Linked DNA regions of Homo sapiens: region 2 is linked to region 1. A link means that fine-mapping ties the variant in region 1 to the expression of a gene that starts in the linked region. Tissue or cell type: lung. Region 1 holds a variant in brackets; the other region holds the start of a gene. All regions are shown on one strand. Distances are from middle to middle.

Region 1 (11,825 bases):
TGGGGAACTGGCAACCACATCCTAGCCTGTTTTATGAAGTGTCTCAGAAGCAATCTCTTCCATGTTTCTGAACATTTGCCATCAGTATGCCCAGAATCTTCAAGTCTGACTTTTTTGGTGTTGCTTCAGCTGCCTGAGGATCAAGAAGACAGGGCTGAGTAGTATGACTCTGTGTGGGTAGTGGTTTAGGAAACAGGTTTAAATCCAGTTTTGTCAGCTGTATAACACTGAAATTACTCCCTCTATGCCTCAGTTTCCTACATGTAAAATGGGGATGATAATGATATCTACTTCATTGTTTTCTTGTGAGGATTAGATGAGGTGATCATATCAAGCATCCAGAACAGTACCTGGCATAGAATGAGTACTCATTAATGTGATTTATTATGATTTGCTACTTTCTAACCTCAATTCTCCAACACCAAGTGGATATCTTAGAATTCAATTCAATTTTGACACTAACTACCCACAGTTAGGGCAGACTCTACAAGTTAAGGGCAAAGTTATTTGCTTTTGACACTAACTACTCGAAGTTAACATTAGATACCACAAGTTAGAGGGCAAGGTCCCCAATAAGACTGCCCTTACTTCAGATGTCAGCTGAAAGTAGTGTCCTTGGATATCTGCAATTCTATCTGAGTTGGCTACAAATTTAGGAGTTCCCATGACCACATTCTAGTCATTTACTAAAATGACTCACAGAATTTACTGAAAGCACACTAAAATTACGGTTTTATTATAAAAGCCACAATCGGAGAACACCCCAATGGAAGAGAAAAGCAAGGTCTGGGAGAAAGGCTTGGAGCTTCTTTGCCCTCTCTGGGTGTGTCAGCCTCCTAGCATATCAACCTCTTCACCAACAAGGAAGCTCCCCTGAACTATGGTGTTCAGAGTATTTATCTAGGGTCTCATTACATAGGTATCATTGATTAAATGATTGGCCAAGTGATTGAACTCAATCTCTAGCTCCTTTGCCCTCTTTGGAGCTGAGGAGGTGAGGCTGAAAATTCCAACATTCTCATTACATCTCGGTGTTTCTGTCATGGTCAGCCTCTCCCTTAAAACTAAGGTTTTACCATGAGTTGCCTCATTAGCATAAACTGAGGTATGATCAAAAGGGGCTCTTATGAAAACAAAAGACACTCCTATTATTCAGAAAATTCCAAGAAATTTTGAGCCAGGAACCATGGGCAAAAATCAACTACACTCTGTATTATATCACATTCAATAAATATTCTGAACATTTATCTTGAGCTAGGTACTATTCTAGGCATTGGGTATATAAGAATAATAATCTATGTTTTCAATGGTTTTCTTTAAATCATAAGACAGTGCCATATTCGGATCACAAGTTGGGATCACCAACCTTGCTTCACCTTCATAACTACTCATATAGAACCGCATCTCAGGGGTTTTGAGAATCAGAATATTTTCAAGCTGTGGGGCACCTAAGAATTTGTTAATACAAATCCACTCCTTCACAGATGGAGAAACCAAAAGTTAACTGCCAAAAGGTTACCCCATGACAAATGTCATGGCTGCCAATCTGGAGCTATTTCTGCTACACCATGATCATGGGATCAGAAACATTGCCATCTTTGACAACGGAGGGCAGTAGATATTTACAATCCTTTATATTAAGGACCTACTCATCTTCCTCTACCCACTTACTTATTATGGCCCTCAGAGTTGGTTCAGACGATGTATAGTACATGCTAGGGAGAGCTGTGGTCTGGAAAATAGACTACCATTGCATATTCCCTTCTTTTCTTCTTCTAAGTAAATCAGCTCTTCCACCACCAACTTCCACTGCTGGAGTAAAGATCCTAAAACTTTAGCTAGTCCATTCAATTCAGTATTTTGGGGGGCATCTACTATGTAAAAAGCATTCTACAAACTGTTGAGCCCACAGAGCTGAATAAGACTTTGTCTTACATACCATATGTACTTAACTTGAATGCAAAACCCAATGTGAGAAATGTGGTACCAAAAGCATAATTTGCTATTAGAATATAGGGGAAAGGGAGATTAATTACTGCAAAGAGTCCTAGTGAAACACTATTTTACAAGGTACTGACCCCCCATTAGTCTGAAGGCCAATGAGAAAGGATGAAAAAATATGTTTAGTATCTCCTATGCCATGCAAAGATACATTTTATTTTACTTTCAGTTTCCTAAATGAGAAAAGTTTTCAAATAATTTTGATTATGCACTCCAATTTATAAAGCATTCTGACAATGTTATAAATATATACATATTTAGTTATGTATAAAATATGAAGATGTACTGATATGTTGTGTAAAACACAAAATGTTGTATGATAATAAAAATGATAATTTTGTAAGATTGCATTTTTCAAAGATGGCCATATCAACATAATCTGTTCCTACCTTTTCATCTTGCAGTGTGACATTGACACTACTTGACTGAAAGGCTATGTTCCTTCCCCTTGAACCTGGCAGAACTTTATAACTGTGCTGGCTAACTAGACTAGGTCATAAAAGAAGTTAATGCTTCTGCCTAGCTCTTTTTCTCTTGGGACACATGCCTTGGGAGCCCTGAGCCAACATAGGAGAAGACGGCCCACATGGAAAGCAGCTGACAGTTAGCATTAGCTCCCAGCCTTCAAGCCAACCAAAATGACACCATGTGGAGGAGAGACAAGCTATCTCTGAAAGCTTTCCCCAACTTGCAAAATAGTGAGTAAAATCAATATTGTTGCTGTTCTAAGCCAGTAAGTTTTGGGATGAATTGTTCCGTAGCACAGTAACTGGAAAAAAATAAGAAAGATGAAATTAACATTTCTAAAATTATTTTTTATTAATGATACGAAAACTTTTTGTACTCTTTTATAATTATAATTCACAATAATATTTTTAGTGAGAGTAATGTAGTTGGATACACTTTATTTTTAAAAATCAAATTTAGTTTAATGTTTTACAATGTAGTAATTCAAAGTTGTGATTCTAAGCCTAGTTTATTTATCCACTAGATTTTCATGGCAGATGTAGCCAAAAAGATACCTCACTTCATGAAAACATAATACACACCATATAAATCATACCCTGTGGTTAATGATACAAAGCTGTATTTCAAAAACTCTTGTTAATTTTTAATTTTTTTGGCTGACTTTTTTCAGAGTTTATTATATCATCTTTGCTTTAATCTCATAACATGGCTGACAAACAACTCAGGCTAAGAGTAGAATGTTGGCTCTGCCATTCTGTTGTTTGTTTTAGTCTGCTATGTCTTTGCAGGAAACTCTCAATGCCACTAATTCATTTAGTGAGAAAGAATTTGGTTAAACTAAAGAATATACAGTTGATTCTAGAACAACCCAGGGGTTAGGGAAAACATCTCCCCATCCCCCCGCCCCCCTATCCTGCACAGTTGAAAATTTGCGTATAACTTTGACTACCTCAAAACTGAAGTATTAATAGCCTACTGTTGACCATAGCCTTACTAATAACAAGCAGTCAGTTAAACATATTTTACATGTTATAGGTATTATATACTGTATTCTTAAAGTAAGCTAGAGAGAATAAAATATTATTAAGAAAATCATAAGGAAGAGAAAACATATTTACTATTCATTAAGTAGAAGTAGATCATCATAAAGATCTTCATCCTTGCTGTCTTTATTTTGAGCATGCTGAGGAAGAGGAGGAAAAGGGGGGTTGGTCTTGTTGTCTCAGAGGTGGCAGAGGTAGAAGAAAATCTAAGTATAAGTGGACCTGTGCAGTTCAAACTCCTGTTGTTCAACGGTCAACTGTAATTGCAAATACAGGCATACCTCACTTATTTGTGCCTTGCTTTTTTGCACTTTACAGTCTTTTTTTTTTTTTTGTGCAAATTGAAGGTTTGTGGCAACCTGTGTCAAGCAAATCTATCAGCTCCATTTTTCCAATATCATATGCTCACTTGATGTCTGTGTCACATTTTGGTAATTCTCACAATATTTTAAACTTTTCATTATTATTACATTGGTTATAGTGATCTGTGATTGGTGATCTTTGATGTTGCTATTGTAATTGTTTTGGGATGCCATAAACCATACCCATATAAGAAAGTAAACTTAATTGATAAATGTTGTGTGATCTGACTGCTCCACCAACTAACCATTCCATGTCTTTTTCTGTCTCCTCACGTCTCCCTATTTCCTGAGACACAACAATATTGAAATTAGGCTAGTTAATAGCTCTAAAATGGCCTCTAAGTGTTCAAATGAATGGAAGAGTCACACAGCTCTCTAAATTGAAAGCTAGAAATGATTAAACTTAGTGAAGAAGGCATGTTGAAAGCTGAGACAGGCCACAAGCTAGGGCTCTTGCACCTAATAGTTAACCAAGTTGCAAATGCAAAGAAAATGTTCTTGAAGGAACAGTTCTTGAAATTCTTGAAGGAAATTAAAAGAAAATATGAATGATAAGAAAGTGAAACAGCCTTATTGCTGATATTCATAATAGTTAATAATAATAGTGTAGGCAGCTACACTAAACAACACATTTTCAAAGTAGATGAAATAGCCTTGCATTGGAAGAAGATGCAATCTATTGCTACAGCCACTCCAACCTTCAGCAACCACCACACTGATCAGTCAGCAGCCATCAACACTGAGGCAAGACTCTCCACCAGCAAAACAATTATGGCTCTCTGAAGGCTCAGATGATTGTTAACACTTTTTTAGCAATAAAGTACTTTTAAAATAAGGCATGTATGCTGTTTTCTAGACAGAATGCTATTGCACACTTAATAGACTTCAGTATAATGTAAATATAATTTTATATGCACTGGGAAACCAGAAAATTTGTGTGACTTGCTTTATTGTGATATTCACTTTATTGCAATGATCTGTAGCTGAAACTGCAATATCTGAGGTATGCTTGTTTCTCAGTGATCTGCTCACACCTTCTCTGTTTTCCACCTCTAGTACCTCCTCATCACCCTCTGGATAAATATCCAAGCCCCAACCTGGCAGACCATATTCTCCACTCCCTCACATGTACCTGGACAAAGCATTTTTTAATCCATTACAGCCTTTATTTAGTGTCTCACAATTAATGGTCATAT[A/G]ATAAATTGATACATCTAAATTCAAGTCTCACAATGAATGGTTATAGAATAAATTGACAAGTCTAAATTTAAGTCAAATGTGAAGAATACATTGCCTCTTTAAAATGTATATATACCTCACCAATGATAACCGACAGAAGAGGTCCCATTTACTTGTATAATGACCTCATATGAAATGGCAGCGAAAACTACAGAACAAATTTTTTTTTTTAAAGCAGCCTGAAACTGCAGTGCTAGGGGCACAGGTTGGGGGAGTCCTTGTCATACCTAAGGAGTCTGTCTCAACCATGGCATGTTTGTCTCTTGTGGCTACTGTGGACAGCATAGTGAAAATCGTCCAATGGAGATCATCCAATAGTTAGCGTTGATCATTTTTTCAACCTTATATGTACTATATCTTTATGTGATTTTTCCAGTGGGTTCTTCCTGCCCACTGCACAGGCAAAATCAATTCTCTGAGACCACAGCATTGGAGTAGAGAAAGAGTTTAACTGATGTGAAGCCAGCCCATGAGGAGGAACTGAATTTATCACTCAAATTAGTCTCCCTAAAAACTAAGACATTAGGGGTTTTAAAGGATAGTTTGGTGGGCAAGAGACTAGGGGATGAGGAATGTTGCTTGATTGGGTATGAAATCATAGGGGTGTGGAAAAAGGTCTTGATGTGCTGAGTTGGTCTCTGGGTGGGAGCCAAAGGACCAGTTGAGACACGAGTTGGGGGTCTGGGTAGGGTCAGCCCTCATTAGCAATGCAAAAGTCTGAAAAACATCTCAAAAGGCCAATCATAGGTTCTACAACAGTGATATTATTTACAGGAGTAATTGGGGAAGTTACAATTCTTGTGACCTCTGGAACAATGGCTAGTTGTCATTTAACTACGCCTACGTCTTAGCAGAAATCAGGCCCCTCATAATCCTAACCTTGTAAGCTTTCATTAGTTTTACAAAGGCAGTTTAGTTTTGGGAAGGGCTATTATCATCCTTGCTGTAAGATTAAACTATAAACTATATTTCTCCCAAAGTTAGTTTGGCCTACGCCCAGTAATGACCAAGAACAGCTCGGAGGTTAGAAGCAAGATGGAGTCAACTACATCAGATTGCTCTCACTGTCAGAATTTTGCAAAGGCAGTTTCATTTAGAGTCATATTGTTTTGTAAATATGGCTCCTATTATCTCCAAAAGCAAACTTTTTACATGGTATACAACTTTAGTTTTGAGATGGACAGTCATGGCAAAATCTAATTTTGTTAATAAAAATTTTTTTTGTAGCTGACCCTTTAAAGAACTCAGGTCTTCTATAAAGTAGGCATATTTATATTCCTGTTTTCCTTTAGGAATAAAGGAGGAAAATGGAATAGGCAAATGCTTTCAGCTGCCAGTTATTAATGTTGTGGATTACATTCTCTGTGGATTATCAGGGGTGTGTTTTTCATTCCGGGCCAACACTGACTGTTGTACCAAGGGAATAAAAACTCATTTTAAAATTAGCCCAAGCAAAAATAAATAATAAGGAAAGAAAACGCTTTGTAAAAAAAGAATAATATGATGCAGGTGAAAGCCAGATAATATGGTTTTGCTCAATCACCACTTTGGACTGTCTTTTCCCTGCTTTTGCTTCCATTTGCATGCACAATTGTATGTTGATGACACAATAAAAATGAACATTTATGAGAAAATGTTCACCGAGATAATCAAGATTTGCTAAACTCATACTTTACACAAGCTTACTTATCCTTCAGAGGCCACCCCCATCATTCAGGAAATTTCTTTTCCCTTAGATTCCAGGTTTGGTTTGCCTTTCTTAAGTAGCTGGTGGCCCTTCTATGGAAGGAGCCAGACTTTGTGCCTCAGCGTGTCCTAGGTGTTCTAATTGCATTTCCTTATAAAATTTTCTCAGGCTTTCACAATTCCCAGGAGGTCCTAAGATGACATTTCTTAATGCTCACATTTACTTTTTATTTTCCCCTTCCTTTCTCTTTTTTTGTCATTTGGGAAATATCCTGAAGATGTGGATTTTTTTATTTTTCCAAATATATAGTGACCTAAACATCTTAACTCCTGGCAATCTCAGTTTGTGAATATCTTCATCCTTTCTTATTTTCCTTTTTACAGAAGTGATAGCATCAAAGTTAAGAGGAGAGGGTAGAATTTATTTTATACACTTTTAAAAAAATGGTAAGTCTGTATGTATGTGATGGTAATGCAGCTATTGCGGTGACTGACTTAAAATATATGGTTTATAATACAGATAAAAGAAAACTGATTGCAAATTCACCTTCCCATAGATGGTAAGATGGCCCAATAGCTCTGGCTTTAATTGTAGAGTAAATACCCAGGAAATCTTTTCTTCTCCTGCCTTAATGAACAGCAGCATGTATCAGGGCATTGGCAAATCTTGTGAAATAATCCCTTGAGGGTGGCCCATTGGGATTTAAGCAGTCGTCTCTAAGAGCCAGTCAGCCTCAATGAACTGCTCCAGGGAATGTTGCTCTGACCTTCCAGAGTTGCTTGCCATGCTTCTGCGGGCAAGCCGCTAACCTGATGAACCGAAGGCAACTGGTTTTCTTGTCCTCAACTGGAAATCACAATATTTTCATGGACCCTTCTTAGGAAGTTAAGGAAGTGCCTTTTTTTTTTTAACTCCTTTTATTATAATGCTCATTACTTGTCCTTCAACTTCATTCAAAGTAGGTGAAATTGGTCTTCTACAACTGTCTACACAGGTGGATTACTCAGCAGATTTCAGTACAAATTGCTTTTTTCCTTTCCTTTCATAGTTCTCATTTTTCAATCTAGACTTACAAATGTAGTTATTTAAAAAAAAAAAAAAGACCTTTGGGCCTAACGTATTTTTTTTTAATTGTAGTTTTAAATGGAACCTACATTGGCCCGACTTCCTTTTGTCTGAATAAAAGCTTAAGCACAGTATAAAAGGGTTGCATGTGCTGAAATGTTGCCCAAGGATATGTGTTATTATTCCTCCCCCCTTGACCAGCAGGGTCTCAGTTCTCTTTCCCTTTCAGCCTTTTGTTTGAACAGATGGGATTGGGGAAGCTAGGGGAAGAAAGCCATTCTGTTCTCATTAACTCTCCCCATACACAAACACAACCTGGGCTTCAGGGACTCAGAAACGGGACAGCTCCCACTCCATTGCCATTGAGACCTGATGTACCGAGATACAAAGAAAGCCAGGCTGAAGACCCACATCACCGTATCAACGAGACAGCTAACCAGTGAAGTCACATTTATAGATGTTTTTAGACATACATTTATGAAAATAGCACCTGAATAATATACAACACAAATATTATGGGTATAGAATAAGTCAATCTGTCATATATGGTATATTTAATATATATTATTTTCAGAAATTCATTCATCATGGAGAGTGATATCTTGAGTGTTCTGTGAACTACACAATCCTTTTTATTTTTACTATATCTTTTCTGTATACAATAGAGTCAAAATATATGAAGAATGGTGGGGTTTCTCTTATTTCAAGCATTTTTGTGCAGTTGTAATATAAAAATTATTATTAAAGTTCCTAGTTTGGATGATCTTGTTTGTTAAAGCATTCCTGACCAAGAAAAAGTCACACAAAATTTTAAACTATAGACCAAATATTGAAGGCTCTCTCTTTATGGTCCTTTTAAAAGTATAGGACTTTTTGAATATTTTGAGAGAAAGGAAAAGATTTTCCACAACTAGATGAGAGTGTTTCTCTCCCGAGGAGTTAATTCCAGGAAGTGCTATCTTTTGTTCTGAACCTGGATTAGAAAGGGGTCTGGCCTATTTGTTAGATCATATTTGCTTTTAAATCTCTGTCCATCCTCATTACTATGATGAGGGTACTGAGGCAGAGATAAAGAGAGCTGAAAAGGCTCCTTCTTATGGCTAGATGCACCTGAGCTTTTGACGCCATGAGCCCTGCGTCCCAGGAGAGCAAGGGAAAAAAGAAAACTCTGTCCAGGAAGAGATACATTTATATTTCATAGCACATCCATGCATTCAGAAAGCAGTCCCAGCGGAGTGATATGCTCCTCTTCGTCTTCCAGGACTTCTAGATGTGTGGAATACACACAATAAAAACGAAAGAGATTTACCCAGCATCTTTCTTGGTAAGATCCCCAAATGGGGGGAAATAATTGTGTCAAAAGACAAAGCATTTCTAAAGGATAAACAATCCTTTGTAGTCCTATCAAACATTTCTTGGAGTTTGTTGTAAACACAAATTAGTTTATTTTATTTACATCTGAAGAAACTGAAGTACAAAATGCCCCAAGTCTGAGTTTACAGTCAGAAAGAGAAACTGAGTGAAATTTTTACTTTTTATTAGCAAACGTTAACTCATGAAGACAGGATACCAAAGAACTTGTTGAAAATAAAATATTAAGTCAACAGTACAGATTATGGTTAACATAAAAATATGTTGATATTTAATGTGGTGTTATTCAGTTTTTACCCAAAATTGTTTCCTGATATATAGAAACAGACAAAGATTTGGACTTTAACTGGAAAAGCTTGGGATATCTCTCAACATTTTTGCTCTCACATTCGGCTCTAATTGACTAGGCTGAGGACAGGGGGAGGTGACTGTAAATTGGACAAAACATTGCAAGAAAAAAAGGCCAATGATAAAAGGCAGCCAATCCCAAGGGGGGCTGTCTAGCAGGGTGCAGCAGGGGTCAGCCCTGGGTTTAGTCCTGTTTAATATTTTTATTACCAGTCTGAAGGGGGAAGGGAAACTGCATAAAAATGAATCTGCAGATGGCTGCTCATTACAGAGGATTTGCAGACCCCAGGAAAAGCAGGAACATAATTCTGAGGTTAGTTTGGAAAGATGATCAGAGAAGAACAAAGACAATACAGACTGGAAAGCCATGAAGTGGTGAATCCGAGGGAAGTAACTCCAGTGTGGTGGGTGAAAGGCATCTCATGCTGCAGGAATTCTGAAAATGCCCTGGCAGAGGTCATTAATACAAGCAGGTTTCGCCTCTGCTTGTTGGGGAACACATACATCATTTTAGGTACTTGGACTGGCAAGGTAAAGCTCTTTTCCACCTAACATTTATGAGATTGTCCTTAGATTGCTGAATTTGGTCATACGAATAGAAAAGGAATTCAGGTTAGAATATTTGACTTCATAATTGCAGGTGCTCCTGCTGAGGGGTGATTTAAGGGATATGGAAGGCTAAAAAGACCGGTATGTGACCAGGGTCTGTGCCATGGAGACATAGGAAGGCCATTCTTTGATATGCACAGGCAGGCTCCATCCTCAGAGCCTGTCACTCCACGCAGTTGGCTCCATGGACACACATTAGCACAAAGCCTTTCTTCAGCAGAACCCTCCCCACATGCCTAGCCTCCCTAGGACTGAAGTTTCCCAATGGTCTCATTGTTTGAAGTGCTACCCCTGAAACTTCTGCAAGTATTTCTTCTATCTTCCTCATCTGCTCAACAGAGAGAGTTCATCATCAACTTATTAAATCTCCCCTATGCTCAGCAATCCTCTGTGGCTCCCCACTGCCTGTAGAAATTAGGAAATCTTAAGCATTCTTTAGTTTAGGATTCTGATTATCTCTCAAAGAACATAAAGATTATGGCATTGTCCCTGAAATCAGATTGACTGACTTCAAATTGTATTCCTCACCAAAGGCCCACGACTAGGCACTTTCTTCACCTACCAAATGGGAATGATAAAAATAATATCAGCTGCCTAGCATAGTTGTCAGGGCCAAGGGAGGTAAATATATATCAAATGCTTATACAGTGTCTCATACACTGCAAGCTCAATGGATGTCAAGCTTTCCCTTTGACGATTATCCAAATCTTTTAGAAGTAATCTTCCTTGGTTTACTTATATGTGTTTTATTTTCCAGGAAAATATTTAACCAATCACATAAAAGTAATATTTTTATATGAAGTAGAAGCTTCATGAACTGCTTCATGTTCACACAGGTGCTGATGTTTGCAACTGATGCTTGTAACTCTGCCTGCCTCACAGCATGTCAGATAGCATCCTTCACCCTCTATCCTCAGCCAGACTTTCCAGCCTCAGCCACCCCTCCCCTGGTGTCTTCCAGGCATATCTGATTACTCACCTTCTCTGACCCACCATGGACATGATTACCCATGCTGTTCCCCCTACCTCACTTGCCTTGGATCTCCATGCCTCTGTGTGTTACTCAGCGACACATAGTAGCAAACCCCAGTTATTCTCTTTAAGACCGACCAAGGTGGCACCTCTTCTGTGAAGCCTTCTAGAACTACTCCCTGCCACCCCTTCTCTGAGAAATCTAGTCTCTTCCTGGGGGTTCCCACTATTGGAACTGCTGCATATCTGTTTCTATCTCTATTCTGACAGCTCCTGGGGTCAGAACTGTGTCTTACTCAACTCATATCTCAAATTCCTGGCACAAAAGTCCTCAATAAATGTTTGCCAACTGTTTTAGTTAAACTTGTTGAATTCATGAATGAAAGTTATTCTTACTAGAGAAAGTACAGAAAACCAAGGATCTCCTAGGAAAGGGGCAGATCTGAGGTATGGAGAGAGACAAGAGCCTGGTCTATCCACTAGGACCCCTGCTGGAGAGAGAAAGTTCTTTGAAATTAACAGTGGAACTCAGAGCCAGTCGCCTGTGGGACTGGGTCTGGGTTAGCCAAAGAGAGGTGTTAGAAATGAGACCCTAAATGCAATTCCACTATTGGAGCCGCCTCCTTCCTCCAGCACGCAGCAGCACGTCTGTCCTGGGACAGG
Region 2 (9,034 bases), 44 kb before region 1:
TTGGAATATTTCATAGATAAGTAAGAAAAATGAGAATAATAATTTAGTTAACACAATCAGTGATTAACTTCTGTTAGACTTTTGATTTTTTTTCTTATAGCACACATTTTATTCTTTCATAAGAAAAATGATCTCCCACAACAATGTGTATATGTCTGAATGGGTTGAGGGATTGGAAACATTGTTTTATTAATATATGTTTAGTGAAAATAAATAGCTCTCAAATTATGTCCTATCACTTATGGTGTTTATATAGATGCTAAAATACTTTTGTCACAAAAGAGTTTCTGTTTTTTCCCCTGTAATTATTACTAATGGGATAATATTGGCTTATATAAAATAAATTGGAAATTTTACTTTAATTTTAAAAAATTGGGAATGGTTATCCACCACACATATCAGCTCACCAGCACAAGTGGACCATAGATAAGTACAGAGCAAACTAGGGGATACTATTGTCTATCTTTAACCTCTGACTGTGCTCACTCCTACCACGGTTCGGGTCACATAGATGGTAAGTTTTCAAAAGTACTGCTACAACTGGTGGTAGTCTCTTCTATTCCTTTAAAGAAAGCAAACAAATAAAAAATGATAAAAACCCTCACCATTTATGATATAATCAATAACAATAAATAAAAATATATACTAGATAAAATAATAAATAGAGAAGTACAGTGAAAATAGGAATTGTTGGGATTCAGAAAATGATAACTCAAAGTATGGCACTTTGGCATGCTGAGTACTTTGAACAAAAGGTGATTGAAAATCCCTTAAAAGCAAAGTCTCTCTCTGAACTTCTCATGCCCTCCTTTCTCCTTGCTCCCTTTTCTCCCCCAAGGGCAAGCCATAGAAACTAGAATTTCTCTTCCCCAAGGTGGATCATAGAAACTAGAACCCCTCTCTCCAAAGCCAGCCATAAAACCTAGAAATAGTATTCTAACATTCTCCCATTTTTCTGTGTAAGAGCTGACCATACAGAAATTCTCTGACCTACTCTGTCTGCAAGTAGATTATAAGACCCTCATTCTAAAAGGGGTCTTGCACTATCCCTGGAAAAAGGAATGCCACACAGAGAGACCAAGTAGAATCTTAACAGGCAGGCTTTCCTGGGTTTCCTCATTCAGTCTGTTGCTGTAAGATCATTCCCTTTTTGTCCAGTCGCATTTCTGCACGGCTATCCACTCTGCATCAAATCTAGGCATAAAAATGGACAGTTTTCCTTTGGATCTTTGGGTCTTCATTCTGAAGACTCCTGTGTCATGTAAAACTCTGATTAGATAAATATGTTATGCTTTTCATGTTAACCTGTCTTTTGTTAAAGGAGTGTCAGCTGTGACCCTTATGATGGGTGAGAAAAGACATCACGCCCTTTACCCACTACAGTGACATAAATATCACACATTATGTCTTCTGAATTTTCTAATAGCTTTATTGAGATATACTTAACATACCATAGTTAAGGCACACAGCTCAATGTTTTTTAGTATATTTACAGAGTCATGAAATCATCACCAAAATCTAATTTTAGAATATTTCCATCATCCCAAGATGAAACTCTGCTGATTAGCAATCACTCCCTGGTACCTTTCTTTACCCGATCTTATCCCTGCACAGCCATTAATCTACCTCTGTTTCTATAGATTTGCTCATTCTGTACCTTTCCATATGAATGGAGTCACGCAATATGTGGTCTTTGTGTCTGGCTTCTTTCACTCAGCATAATGTTTTTGAGGTTCATCCATGTTGTCACATGTATTAGTACTTTGTTTCTTTTCTTGCCGAATAGTAGTCTATTGTATGGTTATATCACATTCTGTTTATCCATCCATCAGTTGATGGACCTTTGGGATGTTTCCACTTTTTCTTATTTTTTTTTAAATTGACAAATAAAAATGGTATACATTTATGATGTACAATGTGATGTGTTGATATATGTTTACACTGTGGAATGAGTAAATCAAGCTAATTTACATATCCATCACTTCACATGCTTATCATATTTTGTGATACCATCTGAATTTTTGTATTACATCTCTTTCTGCTATATCAGCCAAAAAACAGATTCTAAATAAATTGATCTTAAAACCAGATGATCAAATCATTATCTCAAAGGGTTAAACAATGAGTTTAACAAAATTAAGCTTATTGCTCTCAGAAGTTATACATGATCAATAAAACCTTATGCTGTTAATTGGTTTTTGTGCTGTTAATAAATAAAATTAATTAGTTTATTAATATTATTTTTAAGTTTATCATATATTTAATAATAAATATGAATATTTAAATTTATAAATGTATCTATTGATAAATACTTACAAATTTTAAAATAAATATTTTTATCATATCTTTGCTTATCTTTTGTATATCATAATTATATAATATACTAGTACAGTAGTACATGTACAAAGCTTATACATGTACTACTGTACTAGTATATTATGTAGTTATAATTGGGTATATACATATAAATATACATATACTCAGTATGTATGCCCTAAATTTTTATCTATGGGGTACAAAATTTTAAAAAATAGGTTGGAAACAGATGTCTCATAAAAGTAACAAATAATTACAAAGCCTTTGTAGTCCAACAGTATCTGGCAAAGCACTAGATGTGCAGTAAGTATTTAAACTACACTGACACTGTGTTAGTCCATTCTCATGCTGATATAAGAACATACCTGAGACTGGGTAATTTATAAAGGAAAAATGTTTAATTGACTCACAGTTCCTCAGGGCTAAGGAGGCCTCAGGAAACTTATAATCATGATGGAAGGGGAAGCAAACATGTCCTTCTTTACAAGGCAGCAGGAGAGAGAAGAATGAGAGCTGAGCAAAGGGGTAAGCTCCCTATAAAACCATCAGATCTCATGATAACTTACTCTTTTCATGAGAATAGCATTCAATTACCTCCTACCCGGGAATTATGGCAAGTACAATTCCAGTTGAGATTTGGGTGGGGACACAGCCAAACCATATCACTCACTAACCACCCCTGAATGCAAAGGTGGCCATTTATCTAAGTTTTGTGTGTACGTGTATTTCTCCCTTGCCATATGCATTTTGGTGAATAGTTCTGTGTGAGTATATCTGTGTAGGATACAATGACAGAAACAGTAGTACTTTGTGTCTGAGAGTGCAGTTTCTGAATTTAGACCACCTGAATCTCTATCTTAGCTCCATAATTTATTAGCTATGTGACCTTGAGTAGATTACCATCTTTTCCATGTCCTAGTTTTCTTATACACAAAATCGGGACAACAGTACCTACCTACCTCACAGGTTTGTGGTGAAGGTTAAATAAGTTAATATGAGCAAAGTCACTATACCTAGGTCTGACACATGGAAAATGCTCATTGTAGTTTGGCCACCAGAGCTATGGACAGACACACACACACACACACACACACACACACACACACACACACACACACGGGTGAGTATATCTGGATATGTTTATTTTTCTATGTCAATATATATCTGTTCCTCAATATGTATTTATACTGAATAATAATAATAATGATAGCCAACACTTACTGAACATGAGTTCTAGGCATTAGTTTAAGCACTTTACATATATTATCTTGTTCACCTTCAGAAAAAAACATGACATAACATTACATAACATGCTTTGATTATTCTCATTTTACAGATTAGAAAACTAAGGTCCAAAAAGGTTAAGTAACTTACAACTAAATTCACACAGCTAGCATATGACAGAGCCACAAAGCCGGACTTTTTAAGTCACTACTTATCACCTCCCCATTCATTTAATAATATTATTTAATATTACTCTTATAGTCTATAATATCATAATTTGTATGGTGCTTACTATTTCATCAAATATTTTCAAATACATTGGGTCTCATAGCGAGCCTGTGAAATGAGAAGTGCAATATTATTATTCTCATTTTTACAGGAAAGAAAATTGATAGAACTGAACCATGGGTGTCCTTTAGTGGAAGCGTTTCTATGTTACAAATATCTGGGGTACCTCTGTACATAGAGTCACATCATAAATGAACTGAGTACCTATAATGTGTCAAGCTCAGACATTAGTGCTGGGGATATAAGCTACAGACCTCCCCTGGAAGCATCATAGCCTAGGAAGAGAGACCAGTGTGGTAACCAAGAACCAAGAATCACGGTACACAATATGTAGTCTCTAAGGGAGACATGAAAGGAGTGCTTATGGAGCACAGAAGGAGGGGCCATCTGTGCCAGGGAGGTCTTAGAAAAGGCAAAGGGGTGGGGGAGGGGGAGGCTTTGATGGAAGAAAGAATGTGTGTGTGTGAATGTGAATCCATGTCTGTGTCTATGACAGTGTGGCTAGGCATCACTAAGTATGGATCTGAGTGTGTACCTGTTTATACAGGCTTACTTCTGTAAGCATTAATTTTTGTGTATGCTGGCTGCTGGTATAGAATGAGTAAGCCTGAACATAAAAGGGAATTTGTCTGGTATCACACACACCATAGCAGAATTGGACCTGCCCTGATAGGCACACCCTGTCATGACTCCCCAACACCAGGGGAACCAGAGATGCTGGTCCTTTCCCACTGTAGCAGCTGCCCACTCTAGAGCTATGGTGATTAGACCCACCAGTTTTTTTCAATCCATCAGTATGGATGTGTGGTGGTCTAATAGAGCCAGCCAGCTTGTATGATGAAGGGGGAGGAGGTACAGGTGTCTGTGGGTGTGCATCTGTGTGCACACTTCTGGTTGTGTGTGAATGCTTAGCATTGGCTGTTCCTAACTAGAGTGAGAAAACCTCCCTTCTCCCTTCATTGTCACCACCTTGGGGTGTTTATCCACTCACCCATTTCCATTGCCACCTGTATGGGACCGGCTTCCATCTTCACTTTAACGTTCTGGGGATATCTAAAATATACCTCTGTGCTGGGGTTAGGCAGAAGCAAGGCTGGGGAGTGTTGGTGCCCTTATTTGTTGGAGGCACTCCCTCCTTTCCCCGACCCCTGCCCCATTGTGGTCCAGGAATCTCTCAAAGGAGCAAAAATGTGGGCAAAGGCAAATAGTACTTGTGGAAGCCATGAAAAACCCGGAGGGTCACTCCCAGGGGTGGGCTGCTCAATGTGCCTCCCCTGGTGATAAAATCTGCTTTTAGGGCAAAATTAAGGAAGACAAGTGAGGACTCCTCTCTCCACAAATGTTCCCCTAGGAACTGGCGGGGTGGGAGTAAGGCTGTAATGCTCTTTTATTTCTTTAAGCTTGTATGATCAAAACAAGCTAAAATAATCACAAATAATATGTTATTGATATTAACTATGAGTATCTTCATAAAGTGGCAAAATAATTGAACTAGATTTTATTTTTTATTATAAGGTATACAAATTCAGGGCCATGGGATCATGTAAGGCAAAGGCATTATGTACTGGGACACACTGGTAATTTGTGTTTACATCTTGGCACAAGCACTGCCACGCAGTACAATATATTAGCATGTTAAGATGGGCAAGAATGAAGTGCAATAATCAACACATGTAGCATGTCATATTTCAGCTTGAATGAATGAGTGGGTGGAGAGAAAAACAAACATACAGAAAAGTAGAATTATCTCATGTCGTGGTCCGTGAATATGTGGATTCTCTTTCTAGTTCCACCAATGGCTTAATCTATTGAAAGGTTCTTACCATCTATTGATAAGTTAGTCTCATAGCAGATCATTTCTCAAAAATGTTAATATGCTTAATCAAACCTTACTGAAGTATCTTTTAAAATGTAAATGATCTCTAATAAATGTTGGCTGTTGCATGTCTAAATACTTTATTGCAGCATCTTATATAGTATATATTTCCATGTTCTGGACACAAATATTTTTCTAAATATTAAGGGAAAGTGGTGGCTTTGTAATATGCCAGGGGAATTCTTTGATAGTCAATATATTGTTTATTTGTACTTAAATATTTCATCAATAATCTGGAAAAGAGAAATAGCCTGACTACGGCTAGATACTGTTTAGAGGCTAAGATTTCTATCATGAACTGCTTTTCAATTGTTATATTTTATGGCACAGATTCAGTGGGAATCTGATCTGCTAAAATATTTGGGCTGTGAAAACTCCCACACTGTGACAGATGTCAAGTCCAATTAAGTGACTCATGTCCAGGTTTCTGTCCAATAGGATTTCCCATTAAATATCAATTTAGGGGAAAAAAATTCCATCCCCCTTCCTAAGCCTTTATCTCTTCCACCATCTCCAGGCTGAATCAATTGGTACCAGGAGAGCCCAGAAGCCACACACGCATCTCTGCCTCTTTGCTCTGGCTCTCCCACCCTCTTCCCGTCTTTCTCTGCTTCCTTGTCACTGTTACTCCAGGAGACGTTCACTTTTCACCAACCTTTCTCCAAGCATCTCCAAGCCACTGACTATATATATTTTGCTACAAGGTAAAGAGAAGAGGGGCTGGGGACGGGGGATATAGCCAAACCTTGAAAGACTTTGAAACTGGAAAATAGGTGTCTATTTATACAACATACAAGTAAGTGAGGGAAGAGGAAGAGGCAACCTTAGCTCCTAGTTACAGTATTGTGTTCCTGGGAACTGGGGAGATATCAGCTGAACAAAGCCTTATCTCAAAAAAAAAAAAAAAATCACTTCTGAGCAAGATCACATCTCTGTCCTGCACTTCCCAGTTTCTGCTCAGCCGTATTAAGGAAAAGAAAGGCATACGATAGGAGCGGAATCTTATCTTAACCATCTTTCTTATTGATTATTCCGCTATTAGAAAGTGGAGGAATCAGCCCTTTGATGTGATTGTGTTTATCTCTGCATCTCTTTTGTTATTTTTAGAGACCTAGAAGAGGAAAAAAGGCACGAGACTTTTCAACACATCGTTTAAAAAAATCATCAACGAATTTCTTGCAATGTTTGAGAACAATTAAAAGGAAAAAGCGTTTTTTAAAAAATCTATCAACTAAGTGAACAATCATTCATATCGTCTACATCCTGAGATATTATTGTCCCTCGCTGCGGACACCAGCGAGATGACAGCTGCTTTTTCATTTTTGAATGTAATAAATATTTGCTGCTTTTAATATTTTCCGGAATCTCCCCTCGCTATTCCTTGGAATTTTAACTCTAAAGATTGGAGAACAGATTATCAAAAAGGCTTTTGCAAGGTAAGACTCCTTTAAATAATTTTTTTCAGCTTGAAATAAGTTAGATTATTCATACTGTATCTATAGATGCAGTTCATTCCATAAAGAGATAAAACGCATACACGGCATACTATTTATGAATATTTTTAAAGATCTAGAGGAGAATTTAATGTGCTTTGAGGGCAACCCAGGAACTTTTTACCAGAACTACAACTATTTAGTGGCTTATTGTGATTTTCCATTACTCGTCTATTTATTTCTGCCCTTTCAAGCTGACTGTGTAGGTGCAAGTTGTTCTACTCATAAACGTACCCGAGAAAAGCCCGTAGGGAGTCACATGCAGCTCTCTGGGAGCATTTGTTTTTATTTTGCCGTAGAGGACCTGATTTCCTCGCAGGGAAATTAAAGCTGTTTTGGCCCAATTCGCTCCTCTGCAAGTGCGGTGCTGGGAACCGATCACCCATCCCCTTGCTTTTGTTTCTCTAGAAGCAAACGCTCCTATACGTCGCCGACGCGGATTTCTCCCGTGCCGAGCGTCGTGGAGGCTGCCCACGCCGGGGCCCCGAGTTCTCAGCCTGGTCCTCACTCCCGACGCCCAGGGGCGGTGCGTGCAGCCCCTGCAGGGGCCTTTCTCCTCCTGCCGGGCCCTTTCTCGAAGCCCGAATTACCCGGAAGCCCAGCGGTTCTGAGCGGCCCCCTCCCAGAAGGCGCACAGTCCGGGCCAGTGCTCCAGGCGCCCCAGAGAAGCCTGGCCAGGTGGCGTTTCCAAGAGGGCACAGTTAAGTTAGAGGAAGGCTAAGCACCGACATGCCCGGACTTGGCCAGGCCACCCGGGGACAGCTGCAGCCTGCCGAGCTCCGGTTCCGGGAGCGCCCGAACTTTGCCGGCAGAGATGCAGCTCCCGCCGGGACAACACGCGCTGCACCCGCTAGTCCCCGCCTGCCCCGCCCCGGGCCCTTCCCTTCTCTTCCCTTCCCTCTGCATCCTCTCCTCCCTCAGCGGCCCGGCTGCCGGCATTTTCCCGCAAGGTGGTCGCCAGACTGCCGGGCGCATTGTCTGATCCCACGTCGCCGTGTCCCTAGGTCCCCTATGTGTGTGGCTGTCTGCGTGACAGATGGTGCTCCGGGAGCCTGCGAGGGCATCGGAGTCAATTTTCTTTTTAAAGGCTCCCCCACGTTTGTTTAGTCATTTCTTTACGATTTCGGAGAAGCGCGAGGGGTCCAAGAAGCCTTCCCGCCCCCAGCCACTGGCTCTCCGCCTGCGCTCCAGGATGGGGATTCCTGACCGGCCGCACCCCAGAGCCAGGCGCCCCCGGCGCAGCCCCAGACCAGCGCCAGGCCCTCGGGCGCCGCGGCTGCCGGGTTGCTTCGCCGGAGGCCCTCGGGGCGAGAAGTGCACCCCGCGTCTCCCCGCCCCCGTGAAAACCCAGATGTATTCGTTGTTCGAAATCGCTCGTTTGTCCGGGAAGGGGACGAAGGGAGGGAGGAGGAATAGCGCGGTTGGCATTTGGCCGGAAGAGGCACAAAAACCCAGTCGCGACCCCACAGGCCTGCGGTTGTTCCCCAGGCCCAGGGCCACAGGCCCGCTGTGGCCGTCTGCAAGTCGAGGTGTCCAGTCTAGTATGCGGCCTGGGTCAACCGCGTCCCCGCCGGCTCCCGCGCCAGGGCGAGGCGCAGGGCTCGCGCCCTCGGGCCAGATCCTATCGGCGCCCTCCCGCGTCGCGCGCCGGCCTGCTGTGGGGAGGGGGCCCGGGCCGCGCGTCCGCTGGGAGGACCGGCGTGGTAGGCCTCGGCAGCCATCCTTCCAGCAAAATACCCTGATTCCTTTTACTGATTAATTTTCCGACCCCTCCTCAGCCTCCAAAATGATGCTGAGTCCGGACCAAGCAGCAGATTCGGACCATCCCAGCTCGGCG

Alleles and levels. Alleles are on the strand shown, and positions count from the first base shown. SD is a standard deviation of normalised expression in the study named.
As copies of G replace A in region 1, the expression in lung of the gene that starts at base 6,230 in region 2 goes down (small effect, 0.35 SD a copy in GTEx).

Evidence for each region. PIP is the estimated chance that this variant, and not a neighbour inherited with it, causes the effect. A credible set is the group of variants that fine-mapping cannot tell apart.
Region 2: NHLH2 starts here. The variant in region 1 is the best candidate, but not a certain one, in a credible set for the expression of NHLH2 in lung (GTEx, PIP 0.53).

The regions. Positions count from the first base shown.
Region 1 is chr1:115,793,392-115,805,216 of GRCh38, reverse strand. No RefSeq gene overlaps it. Among named protein-coding and RNA genes, the nearest start is that of CASQ2, 31 kb to the right of the region's middle. The variant A/G (reference allele first, on the strand shown) is at 5,071.
Region 2 is chr1:115,838,322-115,847,355 of GRCh38, reverse strand. It overlaps NHLH2 (nescient helix-loop-helix 2), which reads left to right and starts at 6,230. Exons shown (of 3, transcript NM_005599.3): 1 at 6,230-6,408; 2 at 6,812-7,140; 3 at 8,976-9,034. The coding sequence starts at 8,984.